7 linked regions of the Homo sapiens genome follow. The protein of the gene in region 4 purifies or fractionates together with the protein of the main gene of each other region. This does not show direct contact. Each region holds a gene or a part of one and is shown on either strand. Other genes may lie near its edges. The genes, in order: BRAP, BSDC1, C9orf78, SERPINB13, GLMP, ADD2 and RNF34.

Evidence for each region.
Region 1: the proteins of SERPINB13 (region 4) and BRAP purify together in Homo sapiens (affinity purification with mass spectrometry; 2 studies listed by BioGRID and IntAct, with this or other methods). This does not show direct contact.
Region 2: the proteins of SERPINB13 (region 4) and BSDC1 purify together in Homo sapiens (affinity purification with mass spectrometry; 2 studies listed by BioGRID and IntAct, with this or other methods). This does not show direct contact.
Region 3: the proteins of SERPINB13 (region 4) and C9orf78 purify together in Homo sapiens (affinity purification with mass spectrometry; one large-scale study listed by BioGRID and IntAct). This does not show direct contact.
Region 5: the proteins of SERPINB13 (region 4) and GLMP purify together in Homo sapiens (affinity purification with mass spectrometry; one large-scale study listed by BioGRID and IntAct). This does not show direct contact.
Region 6: the proteins of SERPINB13 (region 4) and ADD2 purify together in Homo sapiens (affinity purification with mass spectrometry; 2 studies listed by BioGRID and IntAct, with this or other methods). This does not show direct contact.
Region 7: the proteins of SERPINB13 (region 4) and RNF34 purify together in Homo sapiens (affinity purification with mass spectrometry; 2 studies listed by BioGRID and IntAct, with this or other methods). This does not show direct contact.

Annotation. Positions count from the first base shown.
Region 1 is NC_000012.12:111,675,729-111,679,801, forward strand, and holds part of BRAP (BRCA1-associated protein), read right to left. Parts: intron 3,613-4,073; coding exon 3,423-3,612; intron 1-3,422. UniProt on the Homo sapiens protein: Negatively regulates MAP kinase activation by limiting the formation of Raf/MEK complexes probably by inactivation of the KSR1 scaffold protein.
Region 2 is NC_000001.11:32,380,525-32,384,597, forward strand, and holds part of BSDC1 (BSD domain-containing protein 1), read right to left. Parts: intron 3,525-4,073; coding exon of another isoform or gene 3,474-3,524; coding exon 3,306-3,473; intron 745-3,305; coding exon 690-744; intron 1-689.
Region 3 is NC_000009.12:129,829,355-129,832,670, forward strand, and holds part of C9orf78 (splicing factor C9orf78), read right to left. Parts: intron 2,620-3,316; coding exon 2,542-2,619; intron 1,715-2,541; coding exon 1,517-1,714; intron 188-1,516; coding exon 51-187; intron 1-50. UniProt on the Homo sapiens protein: Plays a role in pre-mRNA splicing by promoting usage of the upstream 3'-splice site at alternative NAGNAG splice sites; these are sites featuring alternative acceptor motifs separated by only a few nucleotides. May also modulate exon inclusion events.
Region 4 is NC_000018.10:63,593,417-63,597,489, reverse strand, and holds part of SERPINB13 (serpin B13), read right to left. Parts: intron 3,465-4,073; exon of another isoform or gene 3,316-3,464; coding exon of another isoform or gene 3,252-3,315; intron 3,136-3,251; coding exon 2,993-3,135; intron 2,462-2,992; coding exon 2,306-2,461; intron 532-2,305; coding exon 127-531; 3' UTR 1-126. UniProt on the Homo sapiens protein: May play a role in the proliferation or differentiation of keratinocytes.
Region 5 is NC_000001.11:156,292,880-156,296,938, forward strand, and holds the start of GLMP (glycosylated lysosomal membrane protein isoform 1 precursor), read right to left. Parts: upstream 2,801-4,059; 5' UTR 2,767-2,800; coding exon 2,647-2,766; exon of another isoform or gene 2,418-2,646; intron 2,138-2,417; coding exon 1,880-2,137; exon of another isoform or gene 1,797-1,879; intron 1,687-1,796; coding exon 1,486-1,686; intron 1,358-1,485; coding exon 1,139-1,357; intron 832-1,138; exon of another isoform or gene 739-831; intron 698-738; coding exon 441-697; intron 331-440; coding exon 165-330; coding exon of another isoform or gene 133-164; 3' UTR 1-132. UniProt on the Homo sapiens protein: Required to protect lysosomal transporter MFSD1 from lysosomal proteolysis and for MFSD1 lysosomal localization.
Region 6 is NC_000002.12:70,702,002-70,706,074, reverse strand, and holds part of ADD2 (beta-adducin), read left to right. Parts: intron 1-1,615; coding exon 1,616-1,754; intron 1,755-4,073. UniProt on the Homo sapiens protein: Membrane-cytoskeleton-associated protein that promotes the assembly of the spectrin-actin network. Binds to the erythrocyte membrane receptor SLC2A1/GLUT1 and may therefore provide a link between the spectrin cytoskeleton to the plasma membrane.
Region 7 is NC_000012.12:121,402,842-121,406,914, reverse strand, and holds part of RNF34 (E3 ubiquitin-protein ligase RNF34), read right to left. Parts: intron 2,067-4,073; exon of another isoform or gene 1,802-2,066; intron 1-1,801. UniProt on the Homo sapiens protein: E3 ubiquitin-protein ligase that regulates several biological processes through the ubiquitin-mediated proteasomal degradation of various target proteins.

The sequences.
Region 1 (4,073 bases), on a different chromosome or scaffold from region 4:
TAACTCAGAAAAAGACAAATCCATTATGATCAAGTTCCTTCGCTGTCACAGGAATCAACTACAGTGTTGAGAACATACCTCTACTTCTCCAAGGAGGTGTCTGCTAAGGCTGTGGTAACTAAGCACGCAGGTGAAAAAAGCCAACATACTCTATTAAGTGGTCATCTGTCCTTTTCTGCCCCCAAGAACAACAAAATTGAACTTCCTTCTGCTTTTCCTATGTCCTGAAGAACTGTAAATTCTCTACCCAAAGACCAAGTTTCCTAAGGGTCACACTACAAATTGGTAAGCACACCCCCCCTTTTTTTTTGATCTTTTAAAAAAAATTTTTAAGAAACAGGATCTTGCCATGTTGCCCAGGCTGGTCTTGAACCCCTGGCCTTAAGCAATACTCCTGTCTTGGCCTCCCAAGGTGTTGGGATTACAGACATGAGCCACCACACCTGGCCTCACAACTCTTTCAGCTAAAGCTAAGGCCAACAGAAATTCAAAAATTACCAAAGATAAAGAGAAGGCTTATAAGTCCTTATTTAAAAATCTGTGGTGAGGAAAAGAATAAAAACATAGTTAGGTGCCCAGGCTATGGAGTCAGGCTGCCTAGGTTTGAACCCTAACTCTGACACCTACTAGCTGTTTGGCTGCAGGCAAGTGACTTATCTGTGCCTGTTTCCTCAACTGTAAAATACATGGCATTTTTTTTTTTGAGACAGAGTCTCGCTCTGTTGCCCAGGCTGGAGTACAGTGGTGTGATCTTGACTCACTGCAACCTCCACATCCCAGGTTCAATAGTTTCTCCTGCCTCAGCCTTTCAAGTGGCTGAGATTACAGGCGTGCGCCACCACATCCAGCTAAGTTTTATATTTTTAGTAGACATAAGCTTTTACCATGTTGGCCAGGCTGGTCTCAAACCACTGCCCTCAAGTGTTCCGCCCACCTTGGTCTCTCCCAAAGTGCTGGGATTAAAGGCATGAGGCACTGCACCTGGCCAACATGGCATCGTTGAGAGGATTCAAGGAGACAATGCATGGAAAGCACTTGGCACAGGGTCCGGTCTCTAGTAAGTGCTTCAGAGTTGGTAGCTACTGAGCCTATTATTCTCACTACAGCCGATATTAGTTTAACTTCCAGTCTTACACCAAGAGGGTATTATTAGGTATTAGAAAATCCCTGTTAGGATGATAGGGATTAGCCCCTAAGACCCAGAGTTAGCAATAAATAATACAACTCATGATACCAAGATAAAGGGTTCTAGCCCCATGGGGAAGAGCATGCAGCAACCTGTTTCGCAGTCTCAGAAAAACATGTCAACTTGAGCAACCTTCACTTGATCAAAAGACACAAGGGGAAGGATAGTGCAGATGTACAAGGAAAATTCATTCACAGTAAATATCCACAGTACTACCTGCACATTATGAAGGGCAGTACTTGTTATAGGGAACTGTGTGGGTTTATTAAACAGGTGACTGTGGTGGATTTATACGACTTCAGACTATTTCAAAAGCCTGAGTGCTCTTCAACATTTTTTTCCCAATCTATTTCTGGGTCTTTTCCTTTGTTACTTGCTTATTGCCCTAGTTGTTAAGTAGAAACTGTAACAATACTGCTGTCATAGAATGTCTCACAAACAACCGCCTCCCTTCCCCACACCTTCATCCCACTCCTACTAGAAGAGGAACGCGTCCCTGGAATTAAAAGTGAGGGTGCCACACTCTTGCTTGTCATTTATGTCTAGCTATGTAACCTTGGGCAAACCATGTATCTCCCTCTGCAGTCACCCTCCTCATCTGTAAAACAAAGATAACAACACAGTTTCCGCAAGGGATTGTAGTGAGGATTAAATGAGACAAAGTGTATTGAACACTTAGCACAGTGAGTGATACAGAAGCCATCGATAAACGTTGGATATTATCATCATTATCCTTATTATTACATGTGCTACCAGACTGAAATGGCTTAAGGCACGATTTTCCCATGGTTTGCAAAGCTCCTTGGCACCCTTGGAAGGCTTTCTGATGGACAGTGAAAGGAGCTATTCAAGTGCTTTTCTGTTCTTAATGTCAACTTGTAAACTTTAAATCCAAAGGATAATTGAAACCTTTTAAATGTCTCCCTAAATGATGGGGTACTTTGTAAACAGAAAACATAATAACTGTGTACTCTCTTGCAGACAGAACTCCACACTAAAGCTTCTCTCTGGAGATCACAGAACAGGTACACTCTTCCCCCACTAAAAAGAGAATGAGGCCGGGTGCAGTCGCTCACGCCTGTAATCCCAGCACTTTGGGAGGCTGGGGCGGGCAGATCACCTGAGGTCCAGAGTTTGAGACCAGCCTGACCAACATGGAGAAACTCCGCCTCTACTGAAAATACAAAATTAGCCAGGCATGGTGGTGCATGCCTATAATCCCAGCTACTCCGGAGGCTGAGGCAGAATGGCTTGAACCCAGGAGGTGGAGGTTGCTGTGAGCTGAGATCGTGCCATTGCACTCCAGCCTGGGCAACAAGAGTGAAACTCCGTCTCAAAAAAAAAAAAAAAAAAAATGAAAGAAGTGGGGGTAATGGAAAAATAATAAGATGGTGTTAACTTCAAAAAGTCTGGGAACCACCGCTTTTCTGGAATAGTTACCGCTTGTTTAAAAAAACAAACAGGCCGGGCATGATGGCTCACGCCTGTAATCCTAGCACTTTGGGAGACTGAGGCGGGTGGATCACAAGGTCAGGAGTTCGAGACCAGCCTGGCCAACATAGTGAAACTCTGTCTGCACTAAAAATACAAAAATTAGCCAGGCATGGTGGTGCATGCCTGTAGTCCCAGCTACTCAGGAGGTTGAGGCAGGAAAATCGCTTGAACCCGGGAGGCGGAGGTTGCAGTGAGCCGATACCACACCACTGCACTCCAGCCTGGGCGACAGAGCGAGAATTCGTCTCAAAAAGAAACAAACAAAAAAACACACTAGATTTTTTTTTTTTTTTTTTTTGAGACGGAGTCTCACTCTTGCCACCCAGGCTGGAGTGCAGTGGTGTGATGTCAGCTTTCTGCAACCTCTGCCTCCTTGCAAAACCCTAAACTTCATACTCAATCTGATCTATAAAAAATCATGGGCATGAGGCCAGGTGCAGTGGCTCAGAGCATCTGTAATCCTAGCACTTTGGGAGGCCAAGGCAGGAGGATTGCTTGAGGCCAAGAGTAGCCTGGAAAACACAGCAAGATCTCATCTCTACCGAAAAAAAAAAAAGTGTATACGTTATAATTGTATTTCTGCTAATGAATTTAGAAATACATCTAGAATTACAATTATATCTTAGAAGACATCTCAAGAATCTTAAGTGCAAAATGTTGTAAATCACACACAGCTATCATACAGTTTGAATACCACAGTTTCTGTGGCAAAGAGATTTTTAATAAATTTAATAACTTTTACCTGTGCACGAAACTTTATCAGCACCATATATTGGTTGGGAGTAGAGTCTCTGATAATTTTCATTTGTTCAATTACTTCGTTAAATGGGGCAACAAACTTCATAAGGTCATGACTGGTCATTGCAGCAGGGACTGTGAGAATACACAGCATGGCACTGCGCCGCACATCTTCTTTTAAGGAGGTCATCTTACTAACAAAAAAAAAATTAGAGTGTCTTGAATAGATGAGGTATGGTTAGTTTAAACAATACTAGACAACTTTTATGTCCAAGAAAACAGGAAAAAATAAAAATTGTAATATTTCATTAATGAACTGTTCTATATTATACCCCCCATTGGACTTTTTAATCTTCAGTTCAACATTTATTACGGTTATAAATCTGCATTCGGTAAATTTGCAGTGTTTTACTCTCATCAATGTTTGAATAATAATCTGTCACTGGTGGCCAGGCACAGTAGCTCATGCTCGTAATCCCAGCACTTTGGCAGGCCGAGGCGGGTGGATCACGAGGTCAGGAGATCGAGACCATCCTGGCTAACACGGTGAAACCCCATCTCTACTAAAAATACAAAAAAAATTAGCCGGGCATGGTGGCAGGTGCTTGTAGTCCCAGCTACTTGGGAGGCTGAGGCAGGAGAATGGTGTGAACCT
Region 2 (4,073 bases), on a different chromosome or scaffold from region 4:
AAGCCCAGCTACTCGGGAGGCTGAGGAAAGAGAATTGCTAGAACCCGGGAGGCGGAGGTTGCAGTGAGCCGAGATCGCGCCATTGCACTCCATCCTGGGAGACAGGGTGAGACTCCATCTCAAAAACAAACAAACAAACAAACAAACAAACAAAACCCAACTCCAGCATCACTTGCTTGGTTCCCAGGCCAGGAAGGGTGCCATTCCTCTGGCTCCTGCTGCCCCGCTGCTCTGCAGAAGCAGTCATGCTGCTCTCTAGTATTTCTACTTTATTGACTGTTTCTGCTTTCCCCCTCTTAACTGCCAGTTCCTGGAGGGTTGGACTAGGTGGAGGGTTTGGCTCATTTCTGATCTCCAGTTCCCATAATGGGGTTTGCTGCATGGCAGGGGCTTAGCTAACAGGAGCTGAAGAGAAGGCAAGGGGGGCAGCAGGGCTGGGAGGGAGGCTGAGCTGAGGATGAGGGATGAGAGGGGCCAAGTCCCTGCAGGGTGGGCAGGACAGCTCAAGTTCAGGAAAGAAAAGAGAACATCCACCCACCCCACAAAGTATAAGGTACACACTAGTCTCACTCTGGTCTCCCTACATAGGGGGTGCCCGGCCTCTGCTACCTGAGACAAACAGGGTCTACAACCCAGCCCCCTTAGTCTACTTGCCCTACAAGCCCACCCGCTCAGTGCTACCCTCTCACCATCTGGTTCATTACAGTAGGTTGCTGGGTCCGACTGCAGGCTATAGAGGCGAGCCTGTAAGAAAAGGAGAAGAGGAAAACAGAAATTCTGAGATACTGGGCATAGAAAGCACCCTTTCTCTGCCAGGATACTCAGTCAACCACAATCCAGCTTCTCCCTTGTTGGCTGGGATACCCCCAGGGCATCTGTTAATTAGCACTGTGGCACAGAGAGTGGGGCACTAGGCTAGGCATCCAAAACTGGGGTTCCCAGAAAAATGGCCTTTCACCCAGTATTCTACCCCAAGAACTAAGAAAATACAGCATAAGCAGGCTACAAAATTATTTGTATAAAATGCTTTGTAGTAAGTAAAATTTGAAAAATGTTAGTGCCAATATGTTAATAAAGTCAAAATTTAGGGACAAATTTTAAAATAACACAATTTCCCTCAAATTAAAACCACTCAAGAATTTATTAATTGTATAGCCAGTCTCTACCAAGTTACGTTCCCACTAGGATCACAGGGTGGCAAACTTAGCTGGCAAAGACAAAGTCCACCTTTCTTCCTCAGTATTGCAGGAAGCATGGGCTATGTGTAAGCGGTCTGGTGATAATTCACTGTCGTTATAGCTCAAAATCTTATCAAACATTTTCACAATTCCACTCACATGTTCACTAAGTGGTGGCGCTAATGCTAGTGCTAAAACACATACTTGAAAAATCAGTACTTTTGGAACAAAAGTTCAATGTGGGCCGGGTGCGGTGGCTCACGCCTGTAATCCCAGCACTCTGGGAGGCCAAGGTAGGTGGATCTCTGGAGGTCTGGAGTTCAAAACCAGCCTGGCCAACATGGTGAAACCCCATCTCTACTAAAAATACAAAAATTAGCCGGGCATGGTGATGTGCGCCTGTAATCCCAGATACTCAGGATGCTGAGGCAGGAGAATCGCTTGAACCCAGGAGGTGGAGGTTGCAGTGAGCCGAGATTGCTCCACTGCACTCCAGTCTGGGCGACAGAGAGAGACTCCATCTCAAAAAAAAAAAAAAAAACAGAAGTCAATGTGATAAAATGCTACAAAGCCAGCCTAGGCAACATGGGGAAACCCTATTTCTACAAGCATAAAAATTAGCTGAGCGTGGTGATGTGTGCCTATAGTCCCAGCTGCTCAGGAGGCTGAGGTGGGAGGAGCACCTTAGGAGATCGAGGCTGCCATGAGCTGTGATCGCACCACTGCACTCCAGCCTGGGGGACAGAGGGAGACCCTATTTCAAAAAAAAAACAAAAAACAAAAAACAAACAAAAAAACTACGAAGAGGGCCCAACTGCCATGACATTATATTGTGAATTTAGAAGAAAACACTCCATGAAATAGAAAATACAATGTGGCCAGGCGCGGTGGCTTACGCCTGTAATCTCAGTACTTTAGGGGGCTGAGGTAGGAGGATCACTTGAGCCCAGGGGTTTGAGACCAGCCTAGGCAGAATAGGGAGACCTCATCGCTACAAAAAAAAAAAAAAAAGGCCAGGTGTGGTGGTGCACGCCTGTGGTCCCCGCTACTAGGGATACTAGGGAGGTTGAGGTGGGAGGAACACTTGAGACCAGGAAGTTGAAGCTGCAGTGAGCTGGGATCATGCCACCGCACTCCAGCCTGGGTGACAGAGTGAGACCGTCTCAAAAAAAAAAAAAAAAAAAAAAGAAGAAGAAAAGAAAATGCAGCAAAAATACGCTACTGTGGCTGTTGCTTTAAGTGCTCTGAAGACACCTCTCTCCCCTTACCTATACGTGTATTACTAGAAATTAGTCTAAATAACCCAAATGTGGAGATTATGCCTCTAAAAATGCTCTCCACAGCGTTCCTTATTATGCTTGAAAGCTGAAAGGAATCCAAATATGCAACATGAAGGAAATAATGGAATAAATAATGCTATATTCACTTGTAAGAATTTAAAGACATTAAAAATTATGGCTGGCTGGGCACAGTGGCTCACTCCTGTAATCCTAGCACTTTGGGAGACCAAGCTGGGAGTCACTTGAGCCTAGGCATTTGAGACCAGCCTGGGCAACACAGTGAGACCCCGTTTCTACCAAAATAATTTTTTTAAATTAGTTGGGTGTGGTGGTTCACGCCAGTGGTCCCAGCTACTCAGGAGACTGAGGTGGAAGGACCCTTGAGCCTGGAAAGTCGGGGCTGCAATGAGCCATGATTGTGCCACTGAGCCCCAGAGAGAGCTTGGGTGACAGAGTGAGACCCTGTCTCATTAAAAAAAAAAAAAAAGATGATTAGGAAAGATGCTATGTTTGTTGATTTTTTAAAAGTAGGTTACAAAACTGCATGTATAAAATGTCTTTTTTGTTCAGAAGAAAAAACCAAACTATCTTTACCTATGTTTATAAACAAAAACAAATGTAAGGTTATATACCAATAAGAAATCAGGGGTTCTCTTTGGGTGATGCAATTGTGAGTTTAAAAATAATTATCCTGTCCTTGCTTACTGGTATTTTCTGATTTACTATTAATAATATACCCATATTTATTTTTTGGCCTGAACATGGGCTGCTTTTGTGAGTACAGGATGGAAGTTAAAGCCCAGGTTACAGATGTTAGGCATCTGCAGGGGAGACTGTCAGTGAATACCTTGGTGCCATCATAGGGCTCAGCTGTGCCAGACGGTGTGCCCATCAGGGTGATGACATCGCAGTCGATGGTTTTGTCTGGCGAAGGGGCAAAGGTGTCTGAGATCACCCCTAGGAAGTCAGATAACCCTTTCTTCATCTTCTCTGTTGCTCCTGAGGAGCCTTCCGTCTGTATAGAGAACGGGCAGAGGAAGCAAGCGCCCCGGGAACAGGCTGCAATCTGGGGTATGGGGGTAAAACATTGGGGCAAAGGTGTACCGTGTGTTGGGGGACCAGGGAAGCGCTCACGACCCTTCACCCGTCTCTGGGGCTGCAGGAGAGGGAGGAGGCAAGGGTCCTCCATCCCCCAAGTGGGGCTGCAGAACAGGGCCATGGTAGGCCTGTGTAGATCAGAGATCTTTGATTGGCTGTTTCATCAAAATTTCAAGGTCAGTCAGGCCGGTCAAAACTTGGCCAGAGAAGGTCCATGCCATAGACACATCAACAGGGAAGAGAGCCTATGGGTAGAGTGGTGGAAAGGGTACTAGCTTCGGAGTTAGACAAAGCTGGTTTGAATCCTTGCTCTACCACTTGTTGGTCATGAGACCGAAACCCTTTCTGAACCTCAGTTTCCTTATTATAAAATGGGGTTAAGTATACATCCTTCATAGGGTTACCATGAAGATTAAAAGATAGGGTATGGACAATGCCTGGCACACAGCATACGCTTAATAAACTGCAGCATTGTAATACTGCAATTTCATCATCATCATTGCTCAGGAAGTAGAAT
Region 3 (3,316 bases), on a different chromosome or scaffold from region 4:
CTCAGCCCAAATAGGGGAATGGGGGCAAGACTGCTCTCCGAGGGGCTTACATCTGTTGTGCTGCACATAATTCACAGCCATGTTGGTAGGCACGAAGGAGGTCTCGCTGTCTTTCTTCTTGTTCTGCTGCTCTGCCAGCAGACGGGCCTTGGCATCCTCCGTGGAAATGATATTTTTTATTTTAGCACTATGGAGAGAAAGAAACCACACCACTTAGAAGATGATAGCACCTTACTACTCAGACATGAGTGGTGAGGCTGGCAGCCCAGCAGTACATAAGAAAATCATGTGTCCTGGGGCACAGCTCTCCACTTTATCAAGCACACTTGTAGTCACATTCTCACGGGACTCTCACGGCTGTCGGAGAACCACAGTTACTCTGCTCTTCTGATCAAGAGCAAATTGAGCTTCAGAGAAGTAAAATGCTTAAGGCTCAAAGTTTGTAAAGGCCAGAAAAGAGCCCAGAAGCCTCCCAGCTTTCTACTGTACCAGAAGATTATTCTAACAATTGTACCTCTTCCATAACAATTCCCTTTTAAAGTGGATATTTTAAGAAGGATCATGGGGAGAAGGGGTGAGTGAGCCTTTAACATGGCTCCTGCTAGAAGAAAACAGAAGAATAAAGGGCCTGATACAGCTGAACAGCTGTAACACGCTAAAGAACCACTTTTGCTTCCAGCAGTCAGGGGCCCTTACTACTCTGATCAAGCCTTCAGCGAAACTTCTAGCAACAACCTGCCAGGGACAATCTCATTTGTATTTGTAGGATTCTAAGGACACAGATAAGAACATGGGGTCTCATTACATTGCCCAGGCTGGTCTTGAACTCCTGGGCTCAAGTGATCCTCCCACCTTGGCCTCCCAAAGAGCTAGGATAACAGGCACAAGTCACCATGTCTGGCCTTTTTTTTTTTTTTTTAAAGGGTCTTACTCTGTCACCCAGACTGGTGTGCAGTGGTGCAATCATGGCTCACTGTAGCCTCAACTCCTGAGCTCAAGTGACAGCCCAGCTAATTTTTTAAATTTTTTTGAGAGACAGGAGTCTGACTATATTTCTCAGGCTGATCTCCTGGCCTCACGTGATCCTCCTGCCTTGGCCTCCCAAGTACTGGGATTATAGGCTTATAGGCATCAGCCACCATACCTGTCCCCCATAAATTTTTTTTTCCTTTTTTTTTGAGATGGAGTCTTGCTCTGTCGCCAGACTGGAGTGCAGTGGCATGATCTCGCCTCACTGCAACCTCCACCTTCAGGGTTCAAGCAATTTCCTGCCTCAGCCTCCCAAGTAGCTGGACTACAGGTGCCTGCCACCATGCCCAGCTAATTTTTGTATTTTTAGTAGAGACGGGGTTCGACCATCTTGGCCGGGCTGGTCTTGAACTCCTGACCTCGTGATCCACCCGCCTCAGCCTCCCAAAGTGCTAGGATTACAGGCATGAGCCACCGTGCCTGGCCTGTCCCCCATAACTTTTAACTGGAAAGCACTGTGTCTTCTGCCTAGGGGTCTCAAACATACTCGATGCCCAGGTCCACCTCAGGAATGCCACTCAGCATCTGGTTGGAAAGCATCTCCTCGGTCTTCTTTGCTGAGGAAACACGGATGTTTTCTGGAAGTTCATAAAGACAGTCCTCTGCATTCTTTGGCTTAACTTTCTGTTCCTCATGTTCCACGATCCCTTTCCTCTTCTTTAGCTCTGTCTCAATGTACTTCATCCTGAAGTGAGAAACCCAGAGGCCTCAGGGAGGGGTGGGAAACACACACCAGGTGTCCTCTAAATCAGTGGTCCCCAACACTGGCCCGCAGACCAGTGACAGTCCATGGAGAAACGAGAAAAAAAATAACTTGAGTTTTTTCATCAAGTTAGAAATTTTCTAAAGAAGCACCAACCTATGAGGTTATGTCCCACTAATCTATTGGTGTTATGATGTACAAGGTTCTTTGAAGACAGAAAGATGATAGTTTGCCAATAGCTTTGTTGGCAAAATAAAAAGTGGGCAAGCCCATGTTTTATCCCTGCAATGTTTTGGGGAAATATTACTAGTCATGAAACCACCTTTGAAAACAAGTTTTTATTTTTTATATTTTGGAGACGGAGTTTCACTCTTGTTGCCCAGGCTGGAGTGCAATGGCGAGATCTTGGCTCGCCGCAAGCTCTGCCTCCCAGGTTCAAGCAATTCTCCTGCCTCAGCCTCCCGAGTAGCTGGGATTACAGGTGCCCACTACCACACCCAGCTAATTTTGTATTTTCAGTAGGGACGGGGTTTCTCCATGTTGGTCAGTCTGGTCTCGAACTCCCCACCTCAGATGATCCACCTGCCTCGGCCTCCCAAAGTGCTGGGACTACAGGTGAGAGCTACCGTGCCCGGCCTGAAAAGACCTTTTAAGAGGTTTTCAAAGTTCTTAAGCTGGGAAGTAGAAAGAGAGGGGCCAACTTTGACATCTTCTAGAAAATTCTAGAAATGTCATCTGTTGACTAAATATCTTGGACTCTGACTGGAGTCCAGCCCCAACTGCTCACAGCCAAACAGACTGACACTTACATGTCTGCATCCTCATCCCTTCGGTTGGTTTCTGCAGAAAACGATGTCCCCAGGTGCAGGTCCTCCTCCTCACTGATCCTGGAGGGAGAGAACAATGAGGCAGAGCTTTCAAGTCACAACTCAATGAGGCTGAGTTTTATGTTCTAAGAAGAAAACAAAGACATAAGCATTTATAATATCCTATTTACAGTTGGCAAAAAAAAAAAAATGCCGTAGTATATGTAAAGAAAAGAAACTCTAGAAATATATGCAAGCAAACTGTTGGCTGCTAGTGATACCTCCAAGGATTGAGTGGATACACTTATCCTTAGGTATCCATGGGGGATTGGTTCTAGTGTCCCTCAAGGATACCAAAATCTGCAGATAGTGAAGTCCCTTACATAAAATAGTATAATATCTGCATCTAACCTACACACACACTACCATCTGCTTTAAATCATCTCTAGATTACTTATAATACCAAATACAATGTAAATGCTATATAGTTGTCACAAAAGTACACAGTAAACTTTTATTTTTTTAATTTTTGAATTATTTGAATGTTTGATTTATTAATTTATTGAGACGGAGTCTCACTCTGTCACCCAGGCTGAAGTGCAGTGGCGCAATCTCAGCTCACTGCAACCTCTGCCTCCCGAGTTCAAGCAATTCTCCTGCCTCACCCTCCTGAGTAGCTGGGATTACGGGTGCCCACCACAATGCCCGGCTAACTTTTGTATTTTTAATAGCGACAGTGTTTCACCATGTTGGTCAGGCTGGTCTCGAACTCCTGACC
Region 4 (4,073 bases):
TTTGATGGCCAAGACTGGAAATGCAAGTGAGACAACATTTAAAAGAATGGACGATTTTCATAATCATATGAGTAACACTGGTAGTTGTTTTTTGCTAAAAGCAGCAATGCCATGGCAACGATCATCTTAAGGAGAAGAAAATCTGCCGAAGAAGAGGATGCTGTTGGATTCATTGTGCCTGATGAAGAACAGGAAGGGATGATTGCAGTGAACATTTTCATGACCTGGGGCGGATGTGACAGTAAAGCCTATGCCGGTGGCAGCTGCAGCCTCGGTGCCTTCCTCAGTTACTGCCACAAAGGAACTGTGCAGGAACTTCTGGGCGTACAACCCGGAGCCTGACGACATTCCCGAGTAGTCGGCTTTGTGCTCACTGAAGGCATCGCCCATCCCCATGGCAGCCAGGACCGCCTCTAGATCGTAACCGTCCTCCACCTCAAACCGGGGCAAGTGCAGATTCACCTTTCTTTCTTCCATATGCCCTGGACTAGTCCACTCTACCAATTTCTCAGGACTTATTTTATCTATTATCTATTTTCAAAAAAAGAAGAGTAGAATGGCATGATTATCAATAAAAATCTAAAACAGTGTAACACTGATTTGTGTCAGTCAGAAGTTATTAATTTTAGTAATATTAAAAGTAGAAATTTTATTTCACTAGATTGTTGTCTTTATACTGCAGGCGGTTGTCTTATATCTCTCTGTTTAAATTATCTGTGTATATGTGGAAATCCAATAGCATTGAATACATTTTTAAAGATTAAAAATAAGTCATTTCTTATTTTATCAACCTAGTATATATTTCATTTTAACTATCTCTCCTAGTCTTTGAATGCATATATATTTACATAGTTGCAATCACAGTGAATGTCCATTTTATTTGATAAAAAGTAAACTTTTTCACAATATTGCATATCTCTCCTATCTTCAAACAGCTAGATAATATTCTTATGAAGTTGATAAATTTTTCCCAATATTTAGCTATTCATTCACTTTACAAACATTTAGTCTTTATCAGGCATTGTGATAGATTTGATAGTTACTAAGGATACAAAATAATAATTACGATGAATTTCAAACTGGGCATTCCAGTGTATTTAATACCGAAATAACTGATTTTACTCAGAAAGGCAACTTTTTTCTTCTGCATTATTTCTTTAGAGTAATTCCCACAACTGGGGTTTTTGAATCAGAAATACTCTTAAAGCTCTCAGACATATTGCTATTTTGCTGTCTCAAAATATTTTCCAACTTAAAATGCTACTAGCAATATTTCACAGAAGTAGCACAGCATCTGGTAGTATAAGACGATAGCAGTTATCATTTGAGTGCTTTCTATGTCCTAGACCCCTTCTAGGCTACGTTTCTCTAATCATTCCAACACTGCTGCACGTTAACCACCATGGAGCCCTCTTCAGAGATGGGAAAGTATTGAAGTTCAAGGAAGTTAAGAAGCTTCAAGGGTCAGAAAGCCACTAGAGGAACAGGGATTTGAAACAAAACTCTCCTCATTTTCAAAATACAGGACACTAGCCACAATTTATTTATTTATTTATTTATTTATTTATTTATTTATTTATTTATTTAATTTTGAGACAGAGTCTCGTTCTGTCACCCAGGCGGAGTGCAGTGGCGCTATCTCGGCTCACTGCAAGCTCCACCTCCCAGGTTCACGCCATTCTCCTGTCTCAGCCTCCCGAGTAGCTGGGACTACAGGCGCCCACAACCACGCCAGGCTAATTTTTTGTATTTTTAGTAGAGACGGGGTTTCACCGTGTTAGCCAGGATGGTCTCGATCTCCTGACCTCGTGATCCGCCCGCCTCAGCCTCCTAAAGTGCTGGGATTACAGGCGTGAGCCACCACGCCCGGCCTTCACATAATTTTTTTAACCACAGAATGGATGAGACTAAATCAATGGTGTAAGAGTGTAAGAAAGAAATTCAAAAGCTCCAAAAGCCTATTGAACAGTGTGCAGAACTGGTTGTATATATGCATATGTGATTTCTTTTTTCCAGGAAAGGGGTCCATAGATACCAACCATTTCTCAGAATGGTGGGTGATCGTTAGGACTCCCATATAATCTTAAATGTTCATTTTAGTTCATCCCAAACATTCTAGGATTAGTTGTTCTCAATAAACCTGACCCATACTATTTAATGCTCCCCAGTAGACATCCATCTGTAGCTGCTGGAGAGTGAGAAACACTTTCTATTTGACACTGCTGGCCACCAGCTCCTACTCAGAAGCCCTGAGACAAAAAGCCTTAGGAAATGAAAGAAAGAATAAGGAGGTGTAAGCGTTTACCTTCTCCAGGCCATCGATGTCGTTGGGCAGAAGCACAAACATGCTTAGGTCGTTGTTTTTATATGGAATCCCTAGAATTTTGGCCTGCAAGTCCTCCAGGAAAGTGAAGCTAAAGGAATGGCTCTGTGTCATCATCTGTACAGATTTACTTGTGCTCTGCAACAAATTAACAGAGCACACAATATCAAAGGACATAAGACCAAAGGCATTAAGGCAACCAAGTTAGTTCATCAAAATAATTAGCTCAATCTAAAATAAAACCCAATATCAGAGTCTCAGAATGAGCATCCACTATCTACCAGTATGCATTTGCTCAAATATGACTTTAGATTTTTTTGGGGGGGTGGGGGATGGAGTCTCACTCTGTCACCAGGCTGGAGTGCAGTGGCATGATCTTGGCTCACTGCAACCTCTGCCTCCCGGGTTCAAGCAATTGTCCTGCCTCAGCCTCCCAAGTAGCTGGGACTACCGGCGTGCACCACCACACCCAGCTAATTTTTATGTTTTTAGTAGATACGGGGTTTCACCATGTTGGCAAGGATAGTCTCGATCCCTTGATCTCATGATCCACCCACCTTGGCCTCCCAAAGTGCTGGGATTACAGGTGTCAGCCACCACGCCCAGCCATGACTTTAGACTTTACATTCCATGTGTAAGCACATCACGAAAATAAACTAAGGGCCATACCTTATTCATCCAAAATTTCTCTTCCTTAGTATTTTCTTTCTTAAACTCCCTGTCCCATTGCCCTTTAAAATAAACCATGTTCACCAGCACCAGCTTGGTAGAGCTACTAATAGAGCCATCTGGGAACAAGTCCTTGATTTTTTCTGCAAATGAAGAAACAGAAAAAGGTTGACCCATCTTCCAAATGACAAATAATATGTATGACAAATATGATGCAGATGGACTTGACTGATCATTAAAAACCCAGCCAGGTCAGCACCTGAGGGCCTTGCTGACAAAGGGTTTGCTGGCAGAATCGACGGGGAGGTTCTCATTTTGCCCATCGCCTATTTATCCCAGTGGATAAATTAAGGTTCATGGTTAAGAGTCCAGACTCTGGGGTCAGATGCCTCTGTTAGCATCCAGTTTGCCTCTTATCAGCTGAGGAATCTTGGGCAAGTTATTTAAACTCTCTGTGCCTCAGTTTCCACATCTGTAAAATAGGAATAAAATCTGCCTCATAGGGTTGTTGAAAGGAACAAATGATTTAACACATGTAAAGCTATTAGAATACCATCTCACACATAATAAGCACTCTGTGTTAGCTATTATGCTTACCATTCAATATAGTTACCACCTGAGATTAAGGGATTACTTATTATATTGGAGAAGGAGTTGATATTTTTGTCTCTGAGTTCACCCCATCCCACAATAAATTCTAAAAAATACTGTTCAACTTTTTGAAAGATCCTATTTTTTCTGTTTCTTTTATTTCCTTTCTTCAGACCAAGCATGAGGGGAAAAAAAAAACACATTCTGAATAACAAAGTTCTCTCTGATAATTGGTATAAAAATGGAATCTGAAACTCTAACACTAAAGTATCAGCTATTGCTCCCCAAGGTGAATTTCCACATTAACATTTCTCTGTGGATTTCCCATACCAGGGGATGAGAAAGGAATAATGGGATAAGAAACTTGTCAAATCCTCTGCTGTGGGGAGAGCTGTAGGTTGTCGTTACCCCTGCACTATGCTTAAGTGAAGATGAAGACTAGGTGGCCCCAGCTGTGGATGGGAACGACAAGTCTTGATGGGAGAGCTGC
Region 5 (4,059 bases), on a different chromosome or scaffold from region 4:
CCCCACCTGGGGGTCTCCAGGAAGTCGAGGCTGGCCTCTGAGGTTCCACAGAAAAGCAAGATGGGGGAGTGAAGGGGCCGGCTGGAACTTGATGCTCCAACCTCCAGAGTTTCGAGGCACAGCAAGACAGGTTCAGTAATGTCCTTCCCTCCAGAGAGCGGGCCTTAATTTATGGACTGGTACTCTGAGTACTTCTTGTGGTGCAGCAGCAGAACCAAGCCGCCCCCTAGCAGCATGAGCCCTGGGGCACCCAGGGCCACTGCCATGATGCCCAGGACTAGTGGGGACAAGCCGTCCACTGGAGGGAAGCCCACACCCAGGAGCATCGACCTAGAGCAAGCAGAGAGAGAGAGGTAAGCGGGCTTAGGAGGAAAGGCTGGGAGGCTCAGCCTTTGTCCACTTCAACTCCCCAAGTCCCCGGCCCAAACCCTGGCTCTCACCAGCTGAGGTAGTGTTGGTCCCAATAGCCAGGGCCTGTGGAAGCCCCGAACGTCAGATTGAAGGCACAGAAGTTATTCTGGGACCCAAAGAAGGCTCGGACAATGGGTGACTGGGGAAGAGAGTATGCTAAGGCAGGATGAAGAGGGGAAGCTTGGCAGGGCAGGGCTGATTCTCGGCCCCCCGGCTTCTGGGAGTAAGCCACTGGTCGCCACTGTGCAAAGCCTGATGGGAGGGAGCCCCACAGTAGCTGGTCCAACTGGGAAGAAAGGCAAACAAGGGAGGGTAAAGAGGACCAACCTGTGCCCGACCCTCTTTTCCTTGCCACTCCCAGCCTTATTCTGTGACTAGCAGCAGGAGTCCTGAGTCCTAGGCAGGGCCTCAATCCCTCCTCTGTAAAAATGGGGAGTTCGACTGGGTGAGGACTGAGTTGTTTTCCAAACCTCCAAGTCTGGACTCAGCCCTCCTCTTGGCCCCTAGCCCCCTTGCAGATCTCCATCTGCCAGAGTGTAAGTCATATTGCACTTTCTGTCTGTCTCCACTGAGGGCAGAGACTGGGTCAGATTCATTAGCACAGTGCCTAGCTCTTAAACGACCCAAAGAAAGTGTTGCTAAATGGCAAATGGTTGAATGAGTTTTAGGTCCCAATGGTGTCCCACCTACATTCCTCACCCATCTGCCTCTCTCCAGGAAGCCTGACCTGGAAGACGGCCGGTGCATATTCATCGTCGATGGAGTGCTGCTCCTGCATTGAGGGGCAGTCAGGGCCCTGGCCCAATGTGGCTACCTCCAGCCCAAACAGGGAACGGTTTCCCCGGGGAGAGGCTCCAATCAGGGCCACCTCTAGCTGACAGGTGTCTGCTGTGTGCAGGAGGCGAGGGGGTTGGGCTGGTCGGCTGGACCTGGAAAAGGCCTGGACCTAGGAAGGAAGAAGCATGGGAGGTGTGGGAAATAGCTGGATGCCTGTGCTTAAGGGCCACCTCCATCATTAAATCCCACCCTCACAAATCAGCCTTTTTGAGCTCTTTCCGATTTCTCACGCCTTACCCTGAAGGCCAGGCTGCCATTGGCAAAAGTCCTGGTAGGGTCGTTCATGGGGTGGCCTTGAAATGTGGCACTCAGGGTGGCAGGATCCAATGAATCAGTGATGTTGTTCCAAGAGAAATCGGCCAAGGAGTATGGAGGATATGGTCTTCCCAAAGGCTTTGCTGCCGTATCGGACACGTTGGTGCTGTCAAACTCAAGCAGCTGGAGGGTGGGGGTAGGGTGGAACTGGGCTTGCCTCAGTTTTTCTCCCGAGACCACACCTCCCACTCACCCCCTACCAAGGCTTTCATATCTGAGTCTATTTCACCCACCCCCAGTCTTTAGTTCCACCCTCTAATTGGGATGAACTCTCTCCTCTGCACTCTTCTCCTTGGTTCTCTCCCAACCTCCTCACCCTGGTAAAAACAAGGGCAGAAGAAAACTGAATGCTGTCCTTAGGGAGCACCATCAGGCCCCCATCGGGCTCAGGGGATAGCAGGAGGCTCCAGTTGACGCTCAGGGTGCTGTGGGGGGTGTTGGTGGCCACCATTACCACTGCCAGAGGCCCCAGGCTGCTCCACACATAGTGCAGTGTGGAATTGGTGCCCACTGCCCGTATATGAAGCAGGTTCTGCAGGGGGCCCAGCCAGTTAGGGATGACCTCCAGAGACACCTGGAACATGGAGTAGTGGAGGGTTGAGGGAACAGGACCAAGGAGAGACACAGGCAAAAGAGAAGCTTGAGGGGAGGGGGGCTTGGAAAGTGCTGGACAAAGGATGGGATTTTGGGGACTAGACAAGAGGAATGTGTGCGGGAGCTGAGGGAACCCTGGGGTAAGGGGCAGTGGGGACAGGATGAAAAGGGGTAGGGTAGAGGGTACAGCCAGGACTCCCCTGACCCTGGTGGGCGGGTCAGGGCACAGGGCTGCGAAGAAGAAAACATTCAACACTTGCCTGGACCTGGGTCACCCAGGGCTGAGTCGGGGTCCAGACATCACCCTCACATTTGCCCTACTCCACAATCCCGTCCCATGACCCATGACCATCTCCCACACCCTCCAGGTTGAAGAACCCTCCTCTTGGCAGCCACCCTCCACCCCTAGCCCCTGGATGCCCGGTTCCAGCCACCCTGCAAGGGTAGCGTTTCCTGAAACTTCTATCGCTGTAGCCCCAGGGCCCTCACCTGGCGGGTCTTCTCCCCCAGCAGGCCAAATGGGGCTGCAAACAGAAGTAGAGTCCAAAGGAGCAGGGGGCTGGGGGCACAGTGCCCCCAACCCCAGGTGCACTCCACAGAGCCGCGCATACGGCCGCAATTCAGCCGACGGAAGAGGTGCCAGAGGGTCACATGACTCGCGTTCAGCTGATCCCTTTCAAGGGCGGAGCCGCCAAACTATTTGCTTTTTAAAAAAATTTCCTTTCGTCAGCACCATTTAATGTATTAAAGAACAGCTTTGTATTCTATCTTAAAACAGGAAACGTCAGTCTCTTACAAGTAATACAATTTAATATGGTCACAAGATTTTAAGTGAAAAAAAAAACATTCATGCTACAAGTTTTCAGTTTTCCTTGGACAATGCCAAAAACACAGTATTCAAACGGCATGTTTTAAGAGGAACGTGAAATCTCATTTTGACACAAAGACAGGTTAAAGAAAATAAACCCAACAGGGAACTACTCCAGTACATTGCCTTAAGTTCCCAACCCTGTCCCATTGTGGAACTCATACACCTTCTTTCTACTCCAGCACATGAAACTCTGTGGTTCTTCTTCCCTGTGGAACAATGTGGTTCTTCTTCCCTGCCTAACATTTCAACAAAAATTGTAAATATTTAGAGATGTGTCACTAAATGACAACAACATACTTCCAAAAAAGCCAACTTATTTGTTAAATGTTGAAAGAAAAGGCCGGGCACGGTGGCTCACACCTGTAATCCCAGCACTTTGGGAGGCTGAGGCAGGTGGATCACAAGGTCAGGAGTTCAAGACCAGCCTGGCCAAGATGGTGAAAGCCCGTCTCTACTAAAAATACAAAAAATTCACTGGGCACGGTGGCAGGGCCCTGTAATCCCGGTGGCAGGCGCCTGTAACCCCAGCTACTCGGGAGGCTGAGGCAGGAGAATCACTTGAATCCGGGTAGTAGAGGTTGCAGTGAGCCAAGATTGTGCCACTGCACTCCAGCCTGGGCGACAAGAGCGAGACTCCGTCTCAAAAAAAAAAAAAAAAAAAAAAAAAAAAAAATATATATATATATATATATATATATATAGAGAGAGAGAGAGAGAGAGAGAGAGAGAGAGAGAAAGAAGGGGCTAGGCCGGGCACAGTGGCTTACGCCTGTAATCCCAACACTCTGAGAGGCCTTGGTGAGTGGATCACTTAAGGTCAGGAGTTAGAGACCAGCCTGACCAACATGGTGAAACCCCGTCTCTACTAAAAATACAAAAATTAGCCAGGTATGGTGGCAGGCGCCTGTAATCCTAGCTATTTGGGAGGCTGAGGCAGGAGAATCGCTTGAACCTAAGAGGCAGAGGTTGCAGTGAGCCGAGATTGCGACATTGCACTCCAGCCTGAGCAACAAGGGGCAAAACTCTATCTC
Region 6 (4,073 bases), on a different chromosome or scaffold from region 4:
GCCTTGACACTCTCCCTTGTAACTGGTGGATGGCAGAACCTGGCTTGTGTGTGGCAGTTTGGCTTGGTGCGGGGGGAGGTGGGACGGAGACAGGAGTCCCCCTCAGTTTCCTGTGCCCCTTCGGAGCCTCAGTTCCCAGTCTTCCCTCCTCACCAAAAGCTATGACAGTGAACGGACAAATCCATGTAAACTAGAGACCAGCAGGGTGCCAGGAGGAGGGCTTGGGGCTCCCTTTACTGAACACCACAAAGTAAGAACTTTCTGTCGGGACAAATGAAGCTTTGACATGAATGGGATGGGGCTGAGGAGAGCCTGGAAGCCCCAGGAGGTGGGCAGAGTGGAGGGCTCAGCCGGGCTGTGGGATGGGGTGTGGGAAGGGAAGGCAAGTCGGGATCACTCACATCCCTCCTTACTTGGGGCCAGTTGGTTCCTGCCTGGCATGGACACAGCTCCTCCTTGAGGCAGGTAGTGCCTTGAGAAGGCCGAAGGGTGGGCCCTGTGGACCACTGAAGGCAGAGGGAGATCACTGTGGTGGAGGCAAGAGGGGTCTGACTGAGGAAGAGCTTGGGGGGCCTCAGGAATCAGCCCATGATCCTAAGGATCGGGAAGCCCAGGGACAGAGTTGGCATCTCCAATTGCTTGCCAGGATGGGCTCGAGATGGGAGCCGCTCTGCCTTGGCCTTCTGGGCTCCAGAGAGCCAGGGCCTGTGCAGGGGCTGTGTGAGACCCTGGCTGGGAGCCATGGTGCATACTCAGGCCACACAGAGCAGCTCCAGGGAATGGGCCGAGGTCCAATATCTGTGCCCAGATATTGTGTTGGGGAGCTGGGAGGAATATGGCAGATGCTGAAAGCATTGGGGTGAAGAGCCTCTGGGAAAACCCCCAGAGTGTGACTAGGAGGGGTGGCAAGGGGGTTAGGAGAGGCGGCAGAGTTAGCACCAGCCCAGATTTCAGGGCTCAGGCAGTAAATAGGGGTTGGAGGAGGGCCTGCTTCCTTCTTCCCTTTTACAGGTTGGCCAACACACCTAAGTGGCCCCCCATTTCCTCCTGAGTGTTTTCTCCTGCCACCTGGTGGGCAGGATTCCTTGCTTATGGCTTCATGGTCTGAAAAGCCAGGCTTAGAGTTGGACATCAGGAGTGGAAGTGACCTCAGAGGTCATCAAATCTTCCTGTTCTTCCTCCTACCCTTTCATTAAGCACATGAGGAAACTGAAGCCCGAAAGAATCACAGGCATCGCTAATGGAGAGGGATGGTGGCTCTCTCCATTCAGTTCTGCCTAAAAAAATGTCCTTCATTACTAAAGTGAAGTCCTACCATGTCTGATGGTGGGGAGGGGTCTTGGCCCTCATTTAGACACAGAAAGGACCTGGAATCTGGATTACTGCCCACAGGGCAAGGGAACACAAGATCCATTCCCAGCATTTCTTTGTTGCTTCCCATACAGCAATTCCTGAGGTCCTAGTGGAACTGCTCAGTGTCCCCTGTAGCTGGGGACCCTGAGCATGGCCCTGACCTAGCTGACCCAGGGGCAAGGGGTGGGCACTTGGAAGAGCTCATTGTTGGGCAGCTGTGTGAGAGGCTGTGGGGGGACAAGCACCTCGGGGCCTGCTTCAGTCTTTCAGGGAGGAGCTGGAAGGCCTCATCCAGGAGCAGATGAAGAAGGGGAACAACTCCTCCAACATCTGGGCCCTGCGACAGATCGCGGACTTCATGGCCAGCACCTCCCACGCAGTCTTCCCGACATCTTCCATGAGTATGTGGTGTCTGGGGAGCTGCCAGGAGCAGAGGTGGAGGGGAGGGTGGGGTGGGGAAGAGAGGGAGGAGCAGCAAGAAGCATCTGGTTGCCAGGCTATGGAGTAAGCAGCCCATTGTGTTATCAGGCCTTGGGGAGCTCAGCAGCAGCCAGAGAGGTACCTGGCTCTGCTTCTGATGTTGCTGCAAATTAAACGTCCACAGAAAAATTACCCCAATGCCAGGAATAAGAGGGTGGAGGTGACTTCAGTGGACGGGAAGAGACCACTGAAGCCTGTGTTTCCATGCCCCACTAGACAGGCCAACCTGACTCCACAGATGAGGGCTGAGAGGAGCCAGCCAGGGCTATGCAGGAAGCCACCCTCCTGGGCTGTTATGCTCTGCCCATAACGTTTAAAACACAAGCATCAAAAAATAACTCCCCCTCAATAAGATTATTACAGGATTATGGCTGAAAACTGTGAAAATAACCAAGAAAGGGAAGCAGAAATCATTCTACTGTGTTCTTAAAGCCCTCATATTACTATTCTTAATATTTTGGTGAACATATATCCTTCCAGTCCTTTTTTTCTTAACATATATAGATTATGCAAACACAAATGTAATCACATAAAATATGGTTCTATAATATAATTTTTGGTGGATACATGCTATTTAATAAATTTCCCATTGTTGGACTTTTAGGTTATTTCCAACTTTTTCTGTTAGGAACAATGCAATAAACATCCTTGTAAATAAACCTGAGATTATATCCGTGATTATTTTCTTAAGATAAATTACTAGTAGAATTGCTGAATTGAAGTACATGCATGCATGTTTTAAAGACTTTAATGCAGAATGGCAGATTACATCCTTTCTCCAAATGGATCCAATTTACGTTCCCAACAGTAATGCGGTAGAGTGCCCATTTCCTCTACCCTGGTCCATAGTGTATACTACCATTTGTTTCATCCTCCTGATTCAGTAGGTGACAAATAATACTTTATTTGTGTTTTAATGTGCATTTGTTTGACTACTGATGAGGTTGGATATATTAATGTATTTTCACATACATATTGGACATGATTTTCTTCCTTTCTCTCTCTCTTTCTCTTTCTCTCTTTCTCTTTCTTTCGTTTTCTTTTCTTCTTCCTTTCCTTTCCTTTTTCTTTTCTTTCTTTTCTTTTCTTCTTCCTTTCCTTTTTCTTTTCTTTCCTTTCTTTCACGCAGAATCTCACTCTGTTGCCCAGGCTAGAGTGTAGTGGTGCAATCTCAGCCCACTGCAACCTTCCAGGCTCAAGCAATCCTCCCACTTCAGCCTGCCAAGTAGCTGGGACCACGGGCACGCACCACATGCCTGGCTAATTTTTGTATTTTTTGTGGAGACAGGGTTTCACCATGTTGCCCAGGCTGGTTTGGCACTTCTGGGTTCAAGTGATCCACCCACCCCGGTCTCCCAAAGTGTTAGCATTACAGACGTGAGCCACCGTGCCCGCCCCTGACTTTCTTTTTATAGTAAATTGCCTTTTTACATCCTTTGCCTATTTTCCTATTAGTGTATTATTTTCTTATAGATTTTTACATTTTTATAAAGTAAAGCTGTTTCTCTATTATCTGTCAAATATATTGCTTTTTTTTTTTCCAGTTTCTCCTTTGTCTTTTAGTTTTGTCCATGGCATTTTTTTTGTCTTGTAGAATTCTTTAGTTTCTGTGTAGCGGAAACCATTGTAATTTTCCTTTGTGTGTTCTGCTTTTGATTGCATGCTTAGAAATACCTTTCCCATGTTTCATCATCTGATGGAACAAATACCCTTAATTATGCATTTGTCAATTTTCCTCAACTGTTTGTACAAGTTTATTCTTTACAATAACTTTAGGCCAGGCACAATGGTTCATGCCTGTAATCCCAGCACTTTGGGAGGCCAAAGCAGGTGGATCACCTGAGGTCAGGAGTTTGAGACCAGCCCGGCCAACATGGTGACACCCTGTCTCTACTAAAAATATAAAAATTAGCCAGGCATGGTGTTGCATGCCTGTAATCCCAGCTACTTGGGAGGCTGAGGTGGGAGAATTGTTTGAACCCTAGAGGTGGAGGTTGCAGTGAGCTGAGATTGCACCACTGCACTCCAGTCTGAGTGACAGAGCAAGATTCCATCTCAAAAAAGCAAAAACAAAAATCAAACTTTAGAATTATTTTATCAAGTCCCCCCATTGACCTTAAAAATTCCTTTTGGGATTTTGATTGGGATTACATTAAACGAATAAATTGATTTGGTGAAGAATTTATAAATTTATAATTTTATATTAGAATGTAAGCTCTGTAGGGGAAATTTGTAAGTTT
Region 7 (4,073 bases), on a different chromosome or scaffold from region 4:
TTAAAAAAGAACGATAATCGTGAAGATAGCTAAATTTCCTCTCTTGACCATGAATGTAGTTTAAAACAACATAGAGAATAAGAGAATGAGGCAACTGTCTGCCTATGCCTAGCACAAAACTCCAAGCTCAGAGAATTCACCTGTGTTTGGAGTTTATTTTCTAGTCATCAGTGATTACTAAAAATAAATGACTTGTTCTTGATAGTCTAATCCCTTTCCTACCCACTCTCTTAAGCCAAAGCTGCTCTCAGTAGAGCCACCATAGGACCATGGTCTGCCTGGCTTATATCAGTTAAAAACCAGGTATCGTATTTAAAAACTTAACACCAGCCCGGCGCGGTGGCTCACGCCTGTAATCCTAGCACTTTGGGAGGCTGAAGTGGGCGGATTGCTTGAGCTCAGGAGTTCGAGACCAGCGTGGGCAACGTGGTGAAACGCCATCTCTACTGAAATACAAAAAATTAGTCAGGCGTGGTGGCAAGTGCCTGTAGTCCCAGCCACTGGGGAGGTTGAGGCACAAGAATCACTTGAAATGGGAGGCGGAGGCTGCAGTGAGCTGAGATCACGCCACTGCACTCCAGCCTGGGCGACACAGCAAGAGTCTGTCTCAAACAACAACAACAACAACAACTTACACATTCCATAATAAGAAATCAAATTCTAAAACCTGCCTGGACTGCCTCAGACACCTAGATATCCTCATGTCATTCTGGTATCCAATGCCAGTTCTCCTCTTTTCTTCAAAGACAGTGCACCAAGATTTTAGGGAGCCAGTAACAGTACCTTTTTTCCACATCCAATTTGGAGCTAATTAAGAAATAAGACAGGCCGGGCACGGTGGCTCATGTAATCCCAGCACTTTGGGAGGCCGAGGCAGGCAGATCACAAGGTCAGGAGATCGAGACCATCCTGGCTAACATGGTGAAACCCCGTCTCTACTAAAAATACAAAAAATTAGCTGGACGTGGTAGCAGGCACTTGTAGTCCCAGCTACTCAGGAGGCTGAGGCAGGAGAATGGCGTGAACCTGGGAGGCAGAGCTTGCAGTGAGCCGAGATTGCACCACTGCACTCCAGCCTGGGCAACAGAGCAAGACTCCGTCTCAAGAAAAAAAAAAAAGAAATAAGACAGAGGCCGGACACGGTGGCTCACGCCTGTGATCCCAGCACTTTGGGAGGCCGAGGCAGGAGGATCATCTGAGGTCAGGAGTTCCAGACCAGCCTGGTCAACATGGTGAAACCCCGTCTCTACTAAAAATACAAAAATTAGCCAGGTATGGTGGTGGATGCCTGTAATCCTAGCTACTCAGAAGGGTGAGGCAGGAGAACTGCTTGAACCTGGGAGACGGAGGTTGCGGTAAGCAGAGATTGCACCACTGCACTCCAGCCTAGGTGACAGAGCAAGACCCTGTCTCAAAAAGAAAAAAAAAGCAAGAAGACAAATGGAAATTAAAATGTTTGTTTTTACTGATAGCATCAACTGGAGAACAGAACCTTAGCTCTGTAGCCAAGTCTGGATAATATACAGCTGACCAAGAGCAGCTTACCAGCTAGTTGAGTGGAGACCAGAACTCCATCTTCACTACAGGAAGACAAATGTGAGAAGGTCCCAGAAAGTACTGAGCCAAGCATGTCAGTTCCTTCACTGAAACTCCTCAATATTCAAGTCCCTCTTTTTCCTCCCATAGCAGAGACTGACAGTGTTTCTCCCATACTGTTCCCTCCCCAAAAATGAATTAGAAGCCCCCTCCCCTCTGTAGGAGCAAAGGAGAGGAAGCAAATGGGAGGGGAAAGAATACAAACCTAAATAATCTGCGTAAGAGTAGGAATGACAGTTTCCAGCCAATAAGGTTATAAGGACTCTCTCAGGTTCCTCAGTCAGAGTCAAACAATATAAGCCCATGAAACATCATTACAGTCAACAAAAGCAAGAGGAAAGGTGTTCTGTTTCTTTGCAAGAGCAGCAGCCCAGCTCTCTTTCTGGCACAGTGCCAGGATTTTCAAATGGCCTCAAGGTTCAGCTGTCTTTGCTTCTGTGTGTGTATAATCTAATATGTTTTCAGAATCCCTGTGGGGAGAAAATACTTCAAAATGCTCAATTTAAAGAATTCACAAATTTACCACAAATTTTCAACCCTAAACTTTTAATGATTCCATTAAATATATTATCAACCAGCCAGACTAGAACGAAGAATCAGAAAAGCTATGGTAGTTTCCATGAAGATTAAATGACAGGCTGGGCGCAGTAGCTCACACCTCTAATCCCAGCACTTTAGGAGGCCAGAATCACTTGAGGTCAGGAGTTCAAGACCAGCCTAGCCAAGATGGTGAAACCCGGTCTCTACTAAAAATACCAAAAAAAATTAGCTGGGTGTGGTGGTGCACAACTGTAGTCCCAGCTACACAGGAGGCTGAGGCAGGAGAATCACTTGAGGCGGAGACTGCAGTAAGCTGAGATGGTGCCACCGCACTCCAGCCTGGGCAACAAAGAGAGACTCCATCTCAAAAAAAAAAAAAAAAAAAAAAAAAGATTAAATGACAGCCAGACACAAGAGAAGTATAGGGGGAGAGTGGGAAAAGAAAGTTTATGAGTATGAAAACAGACAACTAGGCCAGGTGCCATGGCTCAAGCCTGTAATCCTAGCAGTTTGGGAGGCCAAGGCAAGTGGACTGCCTGAGCTCAGGAGTTTGGGACCAGCCTGGGCAACATTGTGAAACTCCGTCTCTACTAAATACGAAGAAAAAAAAAAAAAATTAGCCGGGCATGGCAGCTACTTGGGAAGCTGAGGCAGGAGAACTGTTTGAACCCGAGAGGCAGAGGTTGCAGTGAGCTGAGATCGTGCCACTGCACTCCAGCCTGGCGACAGAGTGAGATTCCATCTCAAAAAAAAAAAAAAGAAACAGAAAACTAAATGATCTAAGTCATTCACTTTTTATTAAACTAGGTAAATAGCAAGGTAATAATAATGCCATAGACTCTTCTCGTAAGAGTCTATCTTGCTTGCCAAAACTCTAATATGTTACTACACAGTCATTCACTTTTTATTAAACTAGGTAAATAGCAATGTAATAATAAACCCATAGACTCTTCTCATAAGCGTCTACCTTGCTTGCCATAACTCTAAGTTAAATATATTATTTACACAGTTATTTTAAGGATGAACCTAGAAGTTTTAAATTCAAAAATAATTGTCTCAGATGCTACATGAATCTACAAGGACCAAGGAGCGATACTGTTCTTCCATCAATGAAAGCTTCCTCAGAGAACTCACCCACTATATGTCCAGGGTTTGTTTCAAACTCTGGACAACCTTCAGTTTGCTAAAACTCAATGTCCTGTGTTAAACGACAGGAAAAAGATGTATTAAATCTTAGCAACGGTGATATAAAATAATCGGTTTTACAGTTTAATCTTGGTTAGGTTAAACTTTCCTACATAACTAAAAGCAAAGCAGAAAAAACAGTTGATAAAAAAGCAAAATCTTTATCCTTTTTTTTTTTTGTTTTGGTTTTTTTTTTTGGAGACAGAGTCTTGCTCTGTTGCCCAGGCTGGAGTGCAGTGGCGCAATCTTGGCTCACTGCAAACTCTGCCTCCCGGGTTCACGCCATTCTCCTGCCTCAGCCTCCAGAGTAGCTGGGACTACAGGCGCCCGCCACCACATCCAGCTAATTTTTTGTATTTTTAGTAGAGACAGGGTTTCACTGTGTTAGCCAGGATGGTCTCAACCTCCTGACCTTGTGATCTGCCTGCCTCGGCCTCCCAAAGTGCTGGGACTACAGGCGTGAGCCACCGCGCCCGGCCTCTTTATCCTATTTAGAGCCATTTGAGAAACATATGCTCCTTAGAATGTGAAAGGATTTCTTATCAAAACTGCTGCTTCAACTGAAATACAATATGCAGGGACCTAACTCTTTCTTAGTGACCAAATATCCGACCATATACCACAAAGGAAGGAATTCTACATCCTAAATTATTTCTCTCATACCATTTGGACATTAAGCAGGTTGCAAAAACAGATGATGAACTCTAAAATGTAATACTTTTAGACAAGACATTGGCCAAACTGATCGATTA